Linked DNA regions of Homo sapiens: region 2 is linked to region 1. Evidence: fine-mapped QTL for protein levels in blood plasma. A gene starts in region 1. The other region holds a variant in brackets. All regions are shown on one strand. Distances are from middle to middle. Region 1 holds the start of GFRA3 (GDNF family receptor alpha 3). Region 2 overlaps BRD8 (bromodomain containing 8).

Evidence for each region. PIP is the posterior inclusion probability: the model's chance that the variant is causal. Protein levels are from antibody-based Olink assays in UK Biobank. Linkage for the fine-mapping came from a reference panel and not from the study's own genotypes, which makes the PIPs less certain.
Region 2: its variant is fine-mapped to the plasma level of the GFRA3 protein (UK Biobank, PIP above 0.99).

The regions. Positions count from the first base shown.
Region 1 is chr5:138,269,716-138,279,439 of GRCh38, forward strand. GFRA3 (GDNF family receptor alpha 3) reads right to left here and starts at 4,906. Exons shown (of 8, transcript NM_001496.4): 1 at 4,619-4,906. The coding sequence starts at 4,709. RefSeq lists silencers at 4,629-4,818, 4,909-4,998.
Region 2 is chr5:138,140,556-138,150,425 of GRCh38, forward strand. BRD8 (bromodomain containing 8) reads right to left here. Exons shown (of 27, transcript NM_139199.2): 23 at 9,085-9,242; 24 at 5,234-5,323; 25 at 4,622-4,690; 26 at 150-327. Among named protein-coding and RNA genes, the nearest start is that of NME5, 6.1 kb to the left of the region's middle. The variant T/A (reference allele first, on the strand shown) is at 4,365.

The DNA.
Region 1 (9,724 bases):
GCCTATAGTCCCAGCTACTGAGGAGGCTGAGGCAGGAGAATCGCTTGAACCTGGGAGGCGGAGGTTGCAGTGAGCCGAGATCATGCCATTGCACTCCAGCCTGGTGGTGACACAGCAAGACTCCATCTCAAAAAAAAAAAAAAAAAAAAGTAGAACTACCATTTGATCCAGCAGTCCCACTACTGAGTGTCTACCCAGAGGAAAAGAAGTCATTATACCAAAAAGATACTTGCACACTCATGTTTATAGCAGCACAATTTGCAATTGCAGAATCATGGAACCAACCCAAATGCCCATCAATCAACGAATGGAACAGAAATTGTGATAGAATAGAATACTACTCAGCCATAAAAAGGAATGAATTGGCCAGGCATGGTGGCTCACGCCGGTAATCCCAGCACTTTGAGAGGCTGAGACAGTCGGATCACAAGGTCAGGAGATCAAGACCATCCTGGCTAAAACAGTGAAACCCCGTCTCCACTAAAAATACAAAAAAAAAAAAAAAAAAAAAGTTAGCCAGGTGTGCTGGCAGGCACCTGTACAGCTACTCGGAGGCTGAGGCAGGAGAATGGCGCGAACCCGGGAGGCGGAGCTTGCAGTGAGCCGAGATCACGCCACTGCACTCCAGCCCGGGCGACAGAGCCAGACTCCGTCTCAAAAAAAAAAAAAAAAGGAATGAATTAACAGCATTTGCAGCAACCTAGATGAGATTGGAGACTATTATTCTAAGTGAAGTAACTCAGGAATGGAAAACCAAACATCGTATATTCTCACTGATATGTGGGAGCTAAGCTATGAGGATACAAAGGCATAAGAATGATACAATGGACTTGGGGACTTGGGGGGAAGCGTGGGGGAGGGGAAGGGATAAAAGACTACAAATAGGGTGCAGTATATACTTCTTGGGTGATGGGTACACCAAAATCTCATAAATCAGCACTAAAGAACTTACTTATGTAACCAAACACCACCTGTATGTACCCCAATAACCTATGGAAAAGAAAAAGTATATCAGAATTTCTCTAGGAAATATGTATTTCCAAAAAGCATATTTGATAATTTTACATGTACAAGATGAAAAAAAAAGCTTTTGAGATTTCAAAAAGTATTTAAGGAAGGTATGAGATTTTATATATTTACCAAAAGGGGAACATGGATTTAAAAAGATTGAGGAATTTCTACAAGTTTACGATGTTACTTCCGGTAGGTACTGAATAAGTGGTAAGTACACAAAGAAAAGTGGCAGATTCAAGTTCTATTGTTGTAACTGGACTAAAAATAATTTTTTTTTTTTGAGGTGGAGTTTTGCTCTTGTTACCCAGGCTGGAGTGCAGTGGCGCGATCTCGGCTCACTGCAACCTCTGCCTCCCGGGTTCAAGCGATTCTCCTGCCTCAGCCTCCCAACTAGCTGGGATTACAGGTATGCCCCACCATGCCTGGCTAATTTTGTATTTTTAGTAGAGATGCGATTTCTCGATGTTGGTCAGGCTGATCTTGAACTCCCGACCTCAGGTGATCTGCCCGCCTCGGCCTCAACAAAGTGCTGGGATTACAGGCATGAGCCACTGTGCCCGGCCATAAATATTTAACTGTACTAACTATTGAGTTGTAAACATTTTCAAAAGAAAACAATTTCTTAGTTGACACTTTACCAAGTTTGAGCAGTGATGGATTTAGGGGCATTCATCTCAACAAAGAACTTGGGGGCCACGTTAAATTTCATCTCAACAAGGTGGAACCTGTGTTTCCTGGATTGTGAAACACAGGACTTGATCCAGGGCAAAGGTCATAATTTGATCCAGTGTGCAAATGTGTCTTTTTTAGTCAGCATAGTTCCGTTCCTTTCTTTTTCTTTCTCCTTTCTCCTTTTCTTTTCTTTCTTTTAATCTCTGTCACCCAGACTGGAGTGCAGTGGTACAATCGCCACTCACTGCAGCCTACAGTCTCGACCTCCCAGGCTCAGGTGAATTCTCCCACCTCAGCCTCCCAAGTAGCTGGGACTGCATGCATGCACTACCACGCCCAGCTAATTTTGTATTTTTTGTAGAGATGGGTTTTCACCATGTTGCCCGGGCTGGTCTCGAACTCTTGAGCTCAAGCAATCCACCCACCTTGGCCTCCCAAAATGCTGGGATTATAGGCGTGAGCCACCATTCCCGGCAGTATTTTCTTTTCTGTTTTTTTTTTTTTTTTTTTTTTGTGTGTGTGTGTGTGTGTGTGTGTGTGTGTGGTTTGGTTGTTTTATTTGTTTGTTTGGTTGGTTTTTTTTGCACGTTCACAGTATTTTCTTTTTCTTTTTTTTTTTTTTGAGACGGAGTCTCGCTCTGTCACCCAGGCTGGAGTGCAGTGGCGCGATCTCAGCTCACTGCAAGCTCCACCTCCCAGGTTCACGCCATTCTCCTGCCTCAGCCTCCCGGGTAGTTGGGACTACAGGCGCCCACCAGCATGCCTGGCTAATTTTTTCTATTTTTTAGTAGCGACGGGGATTCACTGTGTTAGCCAGGATGGTCTCAATCTCCTGACCTCGTGATCTACCCGTCTCAGCCTCCCAAAGTGCTGGGATTACAGGTGTGAGCCACTGCACCCAGCCAGTATTTTCTTAAAGTTGTAATTAGTGGCCAACATTTAAAAATCAGATTTTAGGCCGGGTGCGGTGGCGCACACCTTTAATTGCAGCACTTTGGGAGGCCAAGGTGGGCAGACTGTTTGAGCCCAGGATTCAAGATCAGCCTGGGCATCCGAGATGGCAAAAACCCGTCTCTACAAAAAATACAAAAATTAACCAGGTGTGGTGGCACACTACTACAGTCCCAGCTACTGGGGAGGCTGAGGCAGAAGGATTACTTGAGTATGGGAGGTTGAGGCTGCAGTGAACTGGAATCACACCACTGAACTCCAGCCTGGGTGACAGATTGATACCCTGTCTCAAAAAAAAAATCAGATTTCAAATAAAACTATTAATTTCCAATTTGTCTTGAAAAATGGAAACACTCGGGCCCACATGTAACGGGTGGAGTAATGACTGCCCCCTTTTGACAAGTCATGCCTTTTCCAGCTTGTTATAGTCCATACCACTTTCTATTACTTGCCCCACCTCCTCATTTATACAGCCACTGCCACGTCTATTTCATATTGATTTGTTAGCAACCTGGTTTTGTAACTTTGTTTTCTGCTTCTTGGCTCATCAGAGAATGAGTAGCTACAGAATGGGTCAGATCAGGCTATGCCTCAGGGCACAAGATCCTCATTTGTTTCTCATCAGTGAGGCCCACAACCCAGGTATCCATTTTATAGTTGGATGAACAAAGAAAAGTAATGTGCACCAGGGGATGTAGCAAGTCAAGACCGAGTCAAGGCTAGAACCCAGGACTCCAGCCTCCTATCCACTTCAGAATGATTTTCAGTACATGACACCACTTCCCCATGAATCGGAGGTCTCCTATATGCTTGGCTTTAGCAGGCCCTGAGCAATGATATTTTCCACCCCCAAAGCCCTCTGTTGGTCTGTGCTCTTGAAGAGCACTTGGCTCTACATGGTACCTCCTAGATGACTGTTTTATGGATTTTCAATGAGGCTACTTAACCAGATGTCATTGCTGTCAAGTATTACTGTGGAAAATAGATCTGTCACCAACACTGCTTCATTAAACCATTTAATGAGAAAGGTGTTTAATGTTTTCCCCTGATCCTGACATGCAGCCATAACCTTTAGGATTAGTGAAATTTCCTGGGCAGTCAAATCAGACTGGTGATGTCTTGCTGCCCTGACTTACTGATGTTGGCAGGTGGACAGACCAGGGTTTTTCCTCCTTCCTTCCATATCTGTCTCAAGGCAGCATTTCTACAGCACTGCGTTGTGGACTGAGGTCTCAGGGCAGTGTGGTGGTCTCTCTGTCTCAGGAGTCCCTCCATTCAGTCTCTGGGCAGGAGCCGCATAATAAGATTCCACACACCCATACCACTCACGAAGGCCATGGGCCTTCCAGGGATCTCGGATCCCAGGCTGTTCTTCCTTGGGGGAGTGGCCTGGTTCTAAAACCAGGCCTTGAACTACATCTACAAAACATCTATTGTGGATTATTTATTATCCAAGGGGCAAGCCACTGTGCTAGACGGCTTGCAAGGCCTGCTATTGTAGAAGGTTATGAAACAAGTCAGTTTTAACGAACTTCTTTTTCTTCACCTGTACCTAGTTTCTTCCTCAGTCCTTAAAGCAGATGGAAGAGTTAAAGCCCACGTGGAGCAAATGACACTCTGTTTCTGATCTGATTCTCCCCGCCTCTTAGAGACGCTGTCTTGGTAGTGACCTGGCTGTGGGTTGTTCTGTGACTGTGTAGACCTACCTCAAAAGAGGGAAGAGGGGGGAAAAAGGGGCGAGGAGGAGATGCTTGGGTGGCCAGGCCATTGCTGGCACTCAGTCTATCTCAGTTCGTACACTGTGTTAGGTGTGACCCCAGCCCCTTGCAGGCACCCTGGGCTTCCTGCTCCAGTTCCCCTTGTTCGGCTCGGATGCACCGGGAGGCTGCTGCGCCCTCTCCGGACAGGTGCCCCGGGCCTCGCCTACACCTCACCTCCCCCTCCCACTGTACCCCCGGCCGGTGCGCGCTCTGACACTCACCGGCTGCGAGAGGCAGCGGCGACGGCGGCAGCAGCAGCAGCAACATCAGGACTACGGGCGGCAGCGGTCGCGGGTTCAGGGGGCGCACCATGGCGAGCTGTAGGCGCCGGGCTCCGCGCTCCCCTCGCTCCTCCCCTGGAGCTCTGAGAGCGGGGCTCCCTCGACCGGCACCTCCCGCCCCCGCCTCCCGCCCTCCAGCGCGACGCACACACTCTCCCACCAGGGTCCTGGGCGCCGCCCTCCAACTCCGAAGCGCGCGTCCACACCACGCGCCTCCAGCGCTGGTCCGAGGGACCGCGGGGGTGGGGGCGGGGGAGGGCCGGCGCCCCGGGAGCCGCCGGGCTTGGTGCGGAAGAGGTTGCTCTTTCCGAGGCGGCCCACCTGCTGTCTGACAAGTTCGACTAGCAAGACATTGTGGAAGCTGCCGCTGGAAACTCGCCATCTAGGAGAACCAAATATTTCTCCAAGAAAAGCACCCTTTCTCACTTTCTGGATCCCACTCACCCACACATCAAAGAACAGACACCACCACAAAAGAGATTTTGTAACAAAACTTGAACAAGCCAACACAAGGGCACTTGCATTTCTAGTATTTTTCTTAGAATTTGCACATCTATGATCTCGTTTTTTCCTCTCCTAAGTGTCTTCTAGGGTAAGATTGGGTGGTTATTAAGCTCAAGATGCTGCAAAGATGGGTCGCAGACAGGTGGAATGGCTTTGCTGGGGGAGCAGACCTGGGGCATTAGATTCCAAAATTCAGCCCCGATGGTGTCGTGAGGGAAGATGGAAGATTAAACTCTCCACTAAATAGCAGAGATTTCCTTGGACCAAAGCTCACTGAGGAAGGTGCCTGGAGAGACCATTTAGGAGCCCATCCTTTTCACATGATGAGACTTTCGGAGAGCAAGCTACTCTATCAGGATTAAACAACTAGGTAGAAACACATCTGTGCCCAGAACACAGGACGTCTACCCATAAGGATAAGGGTATTTATTGGGCCTGGGCCTGATTCCCACAAGATCCCAGGATAAAGCCAGAAGCAGAATGGCTTGGAAGAATGAGAACTAAGCAGCGCATAGAAAGAGAGAAGGAGAAGAGGGTGATGAAAGGAAGTGGAGGGTTTCATCCCCTAACCCTCTAACTTGACCCCCTCCTTACTTCCACAGCCAGCCTGGCAGAGGGCCAGCAGGGAGTACTGAGAATCGCAATATAAACCTCTGAGATTTATTGGCTGCTGCTTCTGAATATGGCCATCCTGCTGTGGCCTCTGGGGGGCATTTGCCGATGTAATCAGCCCAGAAAGAGAGTCATTCCAGCTGGGGGTGTAAATCACCCTTGGCAAAGCTAGGAGAGAGACATGTGGCCCTAGATAAGGAAGGAGACTGATGTGGCCTCTGTGCCCTTCCCTCCCTTCTCCTGCCCAGGGGGTGCTGGTTCCTGAGCTGTAATGCACTTTAAATGGAGTTTGTCCTTCGTTTTAATCTATATCTGCCCTGCCAGTTTTACAGAAGAGCTGTAAAAGTGAACATCTGGCTACTCAGCTTTTGTACAAGGCCTGTTTTCCCCCAGCTCCACCCTATCTCCATGTGCCTTTCCCAAGCCCTCCTCTCCAGAAAGGTGAGGGAACATGAAGCTGGGGGGCTACCATTAAAGGCCCCATGATGTCAGGCCCTCTACCCCATTGCCAGAGAGAAATATGCTCCAGGCACCTCATTTTCTCTCACACCTGCTATTACAGGCAGACAATCGTTTTTTGGGTTTTTTTTTTTGAAACTGACAATACTTAAGAAAGGAATTTATAAAGCAAAATGTAACAATTTCAGGCTCTTTGGGATGATAGGAAAGGGCTGAGACCCATGAACCAACAAAGATGTGAGGTGGTCAAGGGGTGTCTCCTCTGCCCTCCCCCTCCTCCAGCCCAAGCCAAATCATGTTATGGGCAGGAAGAGGGTTTGGGAAAGGAAGTTTGCTCAGGGTGCCTACTCTGATAGATACTCAGTGTCTATTCCAGGGCTGTCCCCACAGAATAGACCAAGAATGCAGTATCAAGCTGACGGGCTGGGAGCAATGACCAATCCCACCTGTAACAGGCCAGCCTTTTCATGAGAGAAAATAAAGTGTCTGGTGCATATTTCTGTCTGGGTACAGGGGTGGAGAGCCTCATATCATTGGGCCTTTAATGAGGATTGGAGAAGCTCTGCAAATAAATATGACTCCAAGACTAATATTGACAGCCCTCCAGCACACCCTCTCCACCAACCATGTCCTCTGTGACTGCCAACACCTGCTAGATAAGCAGCATTGCCCCTTGTGGACAATGACAAATGAGCCAGTCCTTTCTACAGAGATGATGTTACTCATCCATCATTCAATTCAATAATGTGTTTTGAGAATGATTATGAGCCCAGCTTTATGCTAGGTGCAAAATGATTAAGACACAAATCCTGCTCGGGGAGGGTGTTACAATCCACTGATTGCAACTCAAATGCCCAAAGACCCTGTATCTTATTCCACTTTCACTTGTAATCTCAATTTTCTCCTCTTATGGTCAGATTACATGGATTCTACCTTCTCTCAAGTCCTCTCTCTCTCCATTGAGCTTTAATTCCTGCTGCTATCCTAATCCAGGATGTTAGCAGTATAATAAATAGTTAAGACCACAAGCTTTACAGACTGCCTAGATTCAAATGCCGACACTAGCTGGATGACCTTGGGCAAGTCACTTAATTTTTCTGTGCTTCCATTTCTTCACCTGTAAAATTAAGGATAATAGTATCTATTTCACATTGTGAGGATTAAATGAGTATAGTATTTAAATGAAGGTGTAGGCTGGGCGCGGTGGCTCACGCCTGTAATCCCAGCACTTTGGGAGGCCAAGGTGGGCGGATCACGAGGTCAGGAGTTCAAGACCAGCCTGGCCAATATGATGAAACCCCATCTCTACTAAAATTACAAAGATTAGCCGGGCATGGTGGCACATGCCTGTATTCCCAGCTACTCGGGAGGCTCAGTGGGGCAGAAGAATTGCTTGAACCCAGGAGGCGGAGGTTGCAGTGAGCCAAGATCATGCTATTGCACTCCAGCCTGGGCAGTAGAGCGAGACTCCGACTCAAAAAAAAAAAAAGAAAAGAAAAAAAAAGGTGTAGCATTATACCTGGCATATAGCAAGCATCGAATAAATATCATCCCAGGTAGCATGCAGGAGTTAATTATTCTGTGTGTGAACTTGGCCAGACCCCACCACCCGACCTGCTGATTTGGAGCTGGAAGTGGCACTTTTTGCTCCTTTTGCTGAATATACTACTAGACCAGAGTGCTTGTAGGGATGGAAACAAAAAGAGCCATTTTTTATTTTTCTACCTTGTCAATTTCTTGAGGGCAGGGACTGTGTCATATTTTAACAACTGTGATACTCAGAATTGGCAACTCCAGATGCATATGTTTAAAGGAATTGGTGTTTCCTTAACCTATGCCTGAACAGAACAGGGAGAGAATCCCCCATGCCTCCTACTTTATACTCCTGATAAAGAAAGGGAAATATTCCTCCTTAATATAGTTTGGATATTTGTCCCCACCCAAATCTCATGATGAAATGTAATCCCTAATGTTGGAGGTGGGGCCTGGTGGAGGTGTCTGGATCATGGGGGTGGATCCTTCATGAATGGCTTGGGCCATTCTCTTGGGGATAAGTGAGCTGTCACTGAGTTCACAAGAGATCCAGTCATTTAAAAGTGTGTGGCACCTCCTCCCATAACTCCCTCCCTCTCTTGCTCCTGCTCTGGATATGTGACATGTCTGCTTCTCCTTCACCTTCTGACATGATTGTAAGCTTCCAGAGGCCTACCCAGGAGCTGAGCAGATGCCAACACCATGCTTCCCATAAAGCCTGCAGAACCATGAGCTAATTAAGCTTCTTTTCCTTATAAATTGTTCAGTCTCCCAGGCAAGCATGGTGGTCAGCCAGGCATGGTGGTGTCGGCCTGTAGTCCCAGCTACTTGGGAGGCTAAGGCAGAGGTTGCAGTGAGCCAAGATCATGCCACCACACTATAGCCTGGGTGACACAGTGAGACCCTGTCTCCAAAAAAAAAAAAAAGCCGGGCGCGGTGGCTCACGCCTGTAATCCCAGCACTTTGGGAGGCCGAGATGGGCGGATCATGAGGTCAGGAGATTGAGACCATCCTGGCTAACACGGTGAAACCCCATCTCTACTAAAAATGAAAAAAAAAAATTAGCCTGACGTGGTGGCGGGCACCTGTAGTCCCAGCTACTCGGGAGGCTGAGGCAGGAGAATGGCATGAACCCAGGAGGCAGAGCTTGCAGTGAGCTGAGATCATGCCACTGCACTCCAGCAGGGGTGACAGAGCAAGACTCTGTCTCAAAAAAAAAAAAAATTACCCAGTCTCAGGTATTTTTTTTCTTTTTCTTTCTTCCTTTTTTTTTTTTTTTTTTTGAGACAGGGTCTCACTCTACTGCCCAGGCTGGAGCACAGTGGTGCAATCATGGCTCACCACAGCCTCAACTTCACATGCTCTAGTGATCCTCCCACTTCAGCCTCTCAAGTAGGTGGGACTACAGGTGCACACCACCACACCTGGCTAATTTTTAAAAATTATTCGTAGAAGGCCAGACGCAGTGGCTCATGCCTGTAATCCCAGCACTTTGAGAAGCCAAGGCAGGTGGATCACCTGAGGTCAGGAGTTTGGGACTAGCTTGACCAACATGGTGAAACCCTGTCTCTATTAAAAATACAAAAAAATTAGCCAGGCATGGTGGCAGGCGCCTGTAATCCCAGCTACTTGGGAGGCTGAGACAGGAGAATCACTTGAACCCGGGAGGCGGAGGTTGCAGTAAGCCAAGATTGTGCCATTGCACTCCAGCCTGGGCAACAAGAGCAAAACTCCATTTTTTTTTTTTGAGACGGAGTTTCGCTCTTGTTGCCCAGGCTGGAGTGCAACGGCGCGATCTCGGCTCACTGCAACCTCCGCCTCCCAGCTCTCAGGTTCAAGTGATTCTCCTGTCTCAGCCTCCCAGGTAGCTGGGATTACAGGCACATGCCACCATGCCCGGCTAATTTTTGTATTTTTAGTAGAGATGGGGTTTCATCA
Region 2 (9,870 bases), 130 kb before region 1:
CCAAACCAGCAGGCACATTATCAATCCTTCAGGGCCTTAATCACCTTTAAAAATAAACTCTGAGAACACAGTCACCTCGAAATCACCTTTATTCTCATAGGCGTTCTGAAATCAAGATTCCAGAGGCTACAGGTATCTGCATACAGTACCTGAATCTGCTCCAGGACTTCTTGCCGCATCTCCACAGCCATATGGTATACATGATGATCAGAGTCATTGTACATTACAGCATTTTGGAACATCAGCATCAGGTCTCGCAGGAATTGGGCCATGGTGCGAATCCGACCCTTAGAGAGATTTCTCTTCAGGCTAGTTAAGTCCATGGGTCTGCAGGTGGCCAAGAAAAAACAAAGAAAATCAAACCTTCATGTGGAACATATGATAACCTAACACGTTCTCTTGAAGAACTAACCAGTTCTTAATGAAAACAGTAGCAAAGATAACAACCCTCATCAGATAATAAAATAGCAACAGCAGTTAATATTTGCCTGTTTACAATGGGCCAAACACTGTATTTCTATACTAACTCACTTAATCCTCTCAATAAACCTGTAAGGTAGGTATCATTAATATCTCATTTTTTTTTTTTTTGAGTCGGAGTTTCACTCTTGTTGCCCAGGCCGGAGTGCAATGGAGCAATCTCAGCTCACTGCAACTTCCACCTTCCAGGTTCAAGCAATTCCCCTGTCTCAGCCTCCAGAATAGCTGGGATTACAGGCGTGCGCCATCATGCCCAGCTAATTTTTGTATTTTTAGTAGAGATAGGGTTTCACCATGTTGGTCAGGCTAGTCTCGAACTCCTAGCCTCAGGGGATCCACCTTCCTTGGCCTCCCAAAGTACTGGGATTACAAGTGTGAGCCACCGCCCCCGGCCTTATTATCTCCATTTCACAGATGAAGAAATTGAAATCTAAAGAGGTTAAGTACTCACTGAAAGGCACACAGCCTGAATTCCAATTCAGAGGCAGCCTGACTCCAGAGCCCACAGGTCAAGCCACTATATTCTACTATCAGAGGAGGAGTGCTGGCCCCAGGTATCAAAGTTGTAAAGAGCACCAATCATCAGTTTATCACACAGTAGTTATTTGCTGTTTACAATGTATAGTCATATATTATTTCATCTACTTCTCTTACTGCACAAATAAAAAGCTAAGAATAATTTTTTTCTCCTTTCATGGAGATGAAAAAAGGATCAAGTGAATATTAAGACAATATTAATGAGACACAGAAAGTAGATATATAAGAGAAGGCACAGCAGTGTAGAAAGAAGACTGAACTGCAGGTAAGAATCTGGGGCTTAGTTCTAGCTCTGCTATTAACTGTTGGTTGATCACGAGCAAGTCATGACCAAGCACCTCTGAGCTTTAGTTTCCTCATTCCTAAAGAAGTTTGTCTCTGCTGTTTGAATGATGGTATCATTGTCTCTGCTGTTTGAATGATGGTATCCCCTCCAAAATTCATGTTGAAACTTAATCCCAAGTGCAACAGTATTAAGAGGTGGAGCCTTTGGGAGGTAATTAATTCATGAGTGCTCTGCCTTCATGAATGGGATTAGCATCCTTATAAAAGGGCTCCATATCGAAGAGAGTGCCCTCTTATCCTTCTGTCCCTTCTGCCATGTGAGGATACAGCATTCGTCCCCTCTGCAGAATACAACAACAAGGCATCATCTTAGAAGCAGAAGCAGAGAGTAACCCACCTCACACACCAAAACTACCAATGCCTTGATCTTGCACTTCCCAGCCTCCAGAACCAAAACAAAGAAACATAGATTTCTATTATTTATAAATTATCCAGCCTGTGGTATTGTGCTATAGCAGCACAGACTAGTGACTCTCCAAAGGTCCTATCATGATCTTTTACATTCTATTACCATACAGGTTTATGACAGCATTTTAGATGACCTATGCTATAAAAACCCAAAATAGGCCGAGCACAGTGGTTCAAGCCTGTAATCCCAGCACTTTGGGAGGCCGAGGCAGGCGGATCACGAGGTCAAGAGATTGAGACCATCCTGGCCAACATAGTGAAACCCTGTCTCTACTAAAAATACAAAAATTAGCTGGGCGTGGTGACGTGTGCCTGTGGTTCCAGCTACTCAGGAGGCTGAGGCAGGAGAATCACTTGAACCCGGGAGGCGGAGGTTGCAGTGAGCCGAGATCTCATCACTGCACTCCAGCCTGGTGACAGAGCAAGACTGTCTCAAAAAAAAAAAAAAAAAAAAATCCAAAATAGGCTAGGATTACCTGCCTGTAATCCCAGCATTTTGGAAGGCTGAGGTGGGAGGATTGCTTGAGACTACGAGCTTAAGACCAACCTGGGCAATCTAGTGAGACCCCATATCTACAAAAAATTTAAAAATTCCTCCTCAGTGATATTCTGAAGAAAAATAAAGTTATTAATAACATTTCAAACAAAGAAAATATTTTATTATAATAAAAATATCAGGCCAGGCACAGTGGCTCACACCTGTAATCCCAGCACTTTGGGAGGCTGAGGTGGGTGAACTGCATGAGCCCAGGAGTCTGAGACAAGCCTGGGCACCATGGTGAAACTCTATCTCTATAAAAAATACAAAAATTAGCCGGGCATGGTGGCACACACCTCTAGACCCAGTTATTAGGGAGGCTGAGGTGGAAGGATTGCTTGAACCTGGGCAGTTGAGGCTCAGTTATCCAAGAAATGTGCCACTGCACTCCAGCCTGAGCAACAGAGTGAGACCTGTCTCAAAAAATAATAGTAAGTAAAAATTTAAAAAATAATAAATTTAAAAATTAGCTAAGTGCAGTGGCACATGCCTGTAGTCCCAGCTACTCCGGAGGCTGAAGTGGGAAGATTGCTTGAGCCCAGGAGGTCAAGGCTGCAGTGAACCATGATTGCACCACTGCACTCCAGCAACAGAGTGAGACCCTGTCTCAAAAAAATTTTTTTAAATAAAAAATAAAAATAAAATCCCAAAATACTGAGAGGTGAAGCTGGCTGGGCTTCTGGGTTGGGTGGGACTTGGAGAACTTTTCTGTCTAGCTAAAGGATTGTAAACACACCAATCAGTGCTCTGTATCTAGCTAAAGGTTTGTAAACACACCAATCAGCACTCTGTAAAAACGCACCAATCAGCGCTCTGTGTCTAGCTAAACATTTGTAAATGCACCAATCAGCGCTCTGTGTCTAGCTAAAGCTTTGTAAATGCACCAATCAGCACTCTGTAAAAACGCACCAAAAAAGGTTTGTAAACGCACCAATCAGCACTCTATAAAAATGGACCAATCAGCACTCTGTAAAATGGACCAATCAGTACTATGTAAAATGGACAAATCAGCAGGATGTGGAGGAGGCCAAATAAGGGAATAAAAGCTGGCCCCTCAAGGCAGCAGTGGCAACCCGCTGGAGTCCCCTTCCACACTGTGGAGGCTTTGTTCTTTCACTCCGCAATAAATCTTGCTGCTCCTCACTCTTTGGGTCCGCACTACCTTTATGAACTGTAACACTCACCGTGAAGGTCAGCCGCTTCGCTCCTGAAGCCAGCAAGACCACGAACCCAACAAGAGGAATAAACAACTCCGGATGTACCACCTTTAAGAGCTGTAACACTCACCGCCAAGGTCTGCAGCTTCACTCCTGAAGCCAGCGAGACCACCAACCCACTGGGAGGAACGAACAACTCCAGAGGCGCCACCTTTAAGAGCTGTAACACTCGCTGTGAAGGTCTGCAGCTTCACTCCTGAACTCAGCGAGACCACAAACCCACCGGGAGGAAGAAACTCCGGACACATCTGAACATCCGAAGGAACAAACTCTGGACACACCATCTTTAAGAACTGTAACACCACGAGAGTCTGCAGCTTCATTCCTGAAGTCAGCGAGACCAAGAACCCACCGGAAGGAACCAATTCCGGACACAATACTACAATCAACCAATGTTCATAACTTCCATTTGGATCGACATCTGTGCCTTACTATACCTATAACTAACTGAATAAATACAGGGTTCCTTTTAAAGTTTTGCTCCAAAAGAATAGTGTCAAAAACAACCAAAGGCTAATTTAAGATTATAATTAATGATCAGGCTGGACACCAAGGCTCACACCTATAATCCCAGCCTTTGGAAGGCCTAGGCAGGTGGATTGCTTGAGCTCAGGAGTTCAAGACCAGCCTGGGCAACATGGCAAAGCTCCGTTTCTACAAAAAATACAAATATTAGCCGGACGTGATGGCTCATGCTTGTAGTCTTAGCTACTTGGGAGGCTGAGGCTGGAGAATAGCTGAGCCTGGGAAGAGGATGTTGCAGTGAGCCAAGACTGTACCACTGCACTCCAGCCTGGGCAACAGAGTGAGACCCTGTCAAAAAAAAAAAAAAAAAAAAA[T/A]ATATATATATATAGAATGGATCATATTACTTAAAAGTCAATAGTACAAAATAAAAAGCCTATATCATCCTTTTGTTCCCTGCATTCCTTCTTAAATGAAGATATGATACTGAGCTCATCATAACTTTATAAACTTGTTTGGCTATGAAACATATCTTGAGTTTGTAAGTTATAAAAATAATCTAACAGATGGGAAATAAAAAATGAAAAGGCAGATATAAAAGCAACCAACCTTTCTTGACCCCTTTTTCACTGACCTTTTCACCACATCCTTGTACCCTGGGGCCTGCCTTTCTGACACAGGCTTCAGAAATGGACTGCTGAACCTGTTAAGGGACAAACCCAGAGAGGATAAAGAAACCCTGGCAAGGCACTCTGAAGGAGAAGAGTAGCTCAGTTCTTAGTAGACTTCCTTTAGGGGAATGCAGACTGTCAGCACCATTAGGAAAAAATCTATTTGTTCCCTCTTGCCAGAGAGTTAAAAAAAACACAAAACTATAAAATATTTCACTATTATTACAATATACTGATTTAGGGCTCAGAAATTTGTTCAAAGTTCCCAAGGCCCTGTCTCTGTGAAAAAAGAGAATCCACCAGATTGAAAAGAAGAATATACATTTTAAATATAAATTTTATCATGTAGTAGGAACCAATTTCTAGAGGCAACTCAAATGGCACAGCAACTATTTCTTGTACAGACTTGTGAAAGCAGCTGTGGGTACTTTGGGATAAATCGGGCTTAGATACAGAATCTACCTTTCAACTATGGCTCATTTGAGGGATGAACATATCTCCTTTTATGCTTAAACCCCAATATGTATTACTGCTTCAGCTCTGAACATAATCCTATTACCACTTTGGAGACCTACCTGTGACTGGCAATCATCTTCCAGACTGGCAGGAGAGTCTTCTTAAATAGCAAATGATCCTGAACAGGGTCATCCTGGCTTAGATCAGTCCTATGAGGATAAAACATGAAGAAAAGAGACAGTAACTTCACAAATAATATTCTATCTCCCCCAGGTGGGTAATGAGGTTTTCTTAAGACATGCTCCTAATTAATATCTGAAGCTTTTTATCTCCCCTTATCTGGCCAAGCAGACTTAGTTATTAATATCTATTGTTTTCTCTTTTAATTTTTTAATTTTATTTTTCTGAGACAGAGTCTTGCTCTGTTGCCCAGGCTGGAGTGCAGTGGCATGATCTCAGCTCACTGCAACCTCTGCCTCCCGGGTTCCAGCGATTCTCCTGCCTCAGCCTCCCAAGTAGCTGGGACTAAAGTTGCATACCACCACACCCAACTAATTTTTGTATTTTCCATAGAGACGGGGTTTTGCCATGTTGGCCAGGCTGGTCTCAAACTCCTGGCCTTAAGTGATCCACCCGCCTCAGCCTCCCAAAGTGCTGGGATTACAGGCATGAACCACCATGCCCAGCCAATTTTTTTTTTTTTTGAGACAGGGTCTTGCTCTGTTGCCCAGGCTGGAGTGCAGTAGTGTGATCGTGGCTTACTGCAGCCTCAACCTGCTGGGCTCAAGCGATCCTCCTGCCTCAGCCTCCCAAGTAGCTGGGACTCCAGGCACATGCCACCACGCCCTGCAGCTAATTTCTGTATTTGTTGTAGAGACAAGGTCCCACTACGTTGCCCAGGCTGGATATCTACTGCTTTCTAATAAAGATTTCATATTTAATCTAAATTGTAAGGTAAGAATGTGGAATTTACCATCCAAGACTATGAACTGTCATGAGATAAGATGTCTCAGATTGGGCCCGGTGTGGTGGCTCACGCCTGTAATCCCAGCACTTTGGGAGGCCGAGGCAGGCGGATCACAAGGTCAGGAGATTGAGACCATCCTGGCTAACACGGTGAAACCCCGTTTCTACTAAAAATACACAAAAAATTAGCTGGGCGTGGTGGCGGGTGCCTGTAGTCCCAGCTACTTGGGAGGCTGAGGCAGGAGAATGGTGTGAACCTAGGAGGCAGAGCTTGCAGTGAGCCGAGATCACGCCACTGCACTGCAGCCTGGGCGACCGAGCGAAACTCCGTCTCAAAAAAAAAAAAAAAAAAAAAAAGTCTCAGATTGCAGATTTCCTGCTGTTTGTACAGTCACAGTATGTCATCTCTGCACTCTATTGCTCATACTTAAGGAGTTAAAGAAAAGCAAATGAAGGCATTCCTCACCAATCTACATTTTAAACTGTATCCTATTTGTGTACCAAAAATTGAAATCTAGGCTGGGCACAGTGGCTCAGGCTTATAATCCCAGTACTTTGGGAGGCTGAGGTGGGATTGCTTGAAGCCAGGAGTTCAAGACCCAGCTTGGGCAACAAAGCAAGACCCTGTCTCTATGAGAAAAAAAAGAAATCTGCTCTTCAAAAAATATATATATATATATATTCATATATAAATATATGCATGGTTCAGCTGTATATCTTAAACAAAAAAACACTAGAATAATTATTAGTTTTACCTTTCCACAGACAACTGGGTGGATCTGGGATATACTGAAGAAAAAAAAAACAGTTCATACTATATTCTCTCAACAGATGGATCTGACACAGGCTGGAAAAAGAACAATTTATTTATTACCATAACAAAAATAACTTTGCTGGACGTAGTGGCTCATGCCTATAATCTCAGCACTTTGAAAGGCTGAGGCAGGAGAATCACTTGAGGCCAGGAGTCACAGATAAAAACAACTTTGTTTTTCTGCTTTAAAAAGTAATTCACTTCATGCCAGATGCAGTAGTTCATGCCTATAATCCCAGGACTTTGGGAGGCCAAGGCAGGGGATCGCTTGAGTCCAGGAGTTTGAGACCAGTCTGGTCAATGTGATGAAACCCTGTCTCTAACAAAAATACAAAAAAATCAGCTGGTTGTGGTGGTGCACATCTGTGTTCCCAGCTATTCATGAGGCTGAGGTGAGAGGATCACCTGAGCCCAGGAGGCGGAGGCTGAAGTGAGCCAAGATCATGCCATTGCACTCTAACTTGGGCAACAGAGTGAGATCCTATCTCAAAAAAAAAAATTAATATTTTTTTGGTTTCCTGTTAAAAAAAAACAGCCCCCATTAAGATTTGAAAATGTGTTATTTAGTCCTATAATTATCTATACAAAGATGAGACAATTGCATAAACCAGGGGTGTCCAATCTTTTGGCTTCCCTGGGCCACACTGGAGGAAGAAGAAGAATTGTCTTGGACCACACATAAAATACACTAACAATAGCTGATGAGCTGGAAAAAAAAAAAAAAAAAGAAAAAAAAAAGGGAAAAAAAAAGGGTCAGTGCATAAATCTCATAATGTTTTAAGAATTTGTGTTTGGCCACATTCAAAGCTGTCCTGGGCTGCAGGCTAGGGATTAGACAAGCTTGACATAAACAATCCCCTAAGAGATGTGAAAAAGAAACAAAGATCACAAACTTCAAAATAATTTTTTTCTTCTCTTTTATTTCTTGTTTTGTTTTCTGAGACAGGGTCTTGCTCTGTCACCCAGGCTGTGTAGTGACATGATCATAGCTCACTGTAACCTTCACCTCCCAAGTTCAAGCAGTCCTCCTGCCTTGGCCTCCTGTGTAGCTAGGACTACAGGTGCATGCCCCCACACCCAATAAATTTTGTTTATTTTTTGTAAAGATGAGGTTTCACTATATTGCCCAGGCTAGTCTCAAAATCCTGAGCTCAAGCAATCCTCCTGCCTCTGCCTCCCAAAGTGCTGAGATTACAGGTGTGAGCCACTGCGCCTGGCCTAATTTTTTCTTTAAAAAAAAATTTTTTTATCCTCTTCCTTGTCTCCATCAAAATAATTTTCCATTTCAAGTTCATAAAATCTATTTTAATATTTTTAAAAGAGGTATAGTTTGGGCCAGGCACAGTGGCTCAAGCCTGTAATCCCAACACTTTAGGAGGCTGAGGTAGGAGGATCACTTGAAACCAGGAGTTCAAGACAAGCCTGGGCAATATAGCAAGGCCAGCCCTGTCTACAAAAAATAAAAAATCAGCTGGGTGTGGTGGCCCATGGCTGTATTCCCAGCTACTTGGAAGCCTGAGGTGGGAGGATCCCTTGAGTTCAGGAAGTCAAGCTGCAGTGAGTCATGATCGTGCCCATTGCACTCCAGCCTGGGTGATGGAGCTAGACCCTGTCTCTATTAAAGAAAAAAAAAGCACCATAGTTTGTATATTAGGCATAGTTTGTATAATATTAGCTCCATCACCCAGGCTGGAGTGATACAGACTTGGCTAGAGTACAGTGGCACAATCATGGCTCACTGCAGCTTGACCTCCTGGGCTCAGGTGATCCTCCCACCTCAGCTTCCGGAGTACCTGAGACTATAGACAAGTGACACCATACCTGGCTAATTTTTTTTTAATTTTTATTTTGTAGAGGCATGGTCTCCCTATGTTGCCCAGGCTGGTCTCAAAGTCCTGGGATCAAGGGATCCTCCTGCCTTGGCCTCCCAAAGTGCTGGAATTACAGGTGTGAGCCACCACACCTAGCCTTGAAAGACAGTCCTAATATTGATTAAACATATTTGTTTTATAACAGGAGAGCATATAGACTTCTATTTATATGATGTTAAAATTATACTTAATTAATTATATTTTTTGTGTTTTCCAACTCTAATTTTCTTTAACTTATAAAAGTAATCCATTTCATGATTCAAATAGGCATAAACAGAAGTACGAATCTTAACAAACTTGGATGAAAGTCTACGCTTACAGCTTTGAGGAGGTAGCATGGCTGAAAAGTGTATCCACCAAGGGAGTCTCCTTAATGTTAAAGGCATCATCACACTCGCCTGAAGGGGGCTGGTCTTCCATCTCTGACACATATACTTCACCCTGGTCCTCCCCTTTGGATTCTTGCTGAGCCTCCCCCTAGGAATGCCAGGAAACAGGAAACTTTAGAAGGAGATTTACTTTCTGCATAGTAATTTTACTTGCATAGAGTAAATGAAGGCTGCCCTTAAGGTGAGAAGAGGTCAATTACATAAAGCTACAAAAGAAATTAAAGAAAGCTGACTTAACTAGATTTAAGTTAATGAGTTCTTGGTAACAATCTTGCTGGAGGACTTTGACTCTGTGCCACTCACCTCCAGCAAAATGGAAAAGCATTATTTGCCCAATTCTCATTGGATTCTTTAAAAACCATCATGATCACCTGTGGCCCTGGAGTTAACTACTCTAGCTGGCCAGATAATTTTTTTTTTTTTTTTGAGACAGGGTCTCACTCTGTTGCCCAGGCTGGAGTGCAGTAGCATCATCATGGCTCACTGCAGCCTTGCACTCCTGGGCTCCCCCGAGACCCCTAAGTAGCTGGAACTACAGGAACATGCCACCATACCTGGCTAATTTGTTTTTTGTTTTTTGTAGAGATGGTGTCTCCCTGTATTGCCCAGACTGGTCTTGAACTCCTGAGCTCAAGAGATCCTACTGCCTCTGCCTCCCAAAGCACTGGGATTACAGGCATGAGCCATTGCACCCCACCTGCCAGATAATATTAATA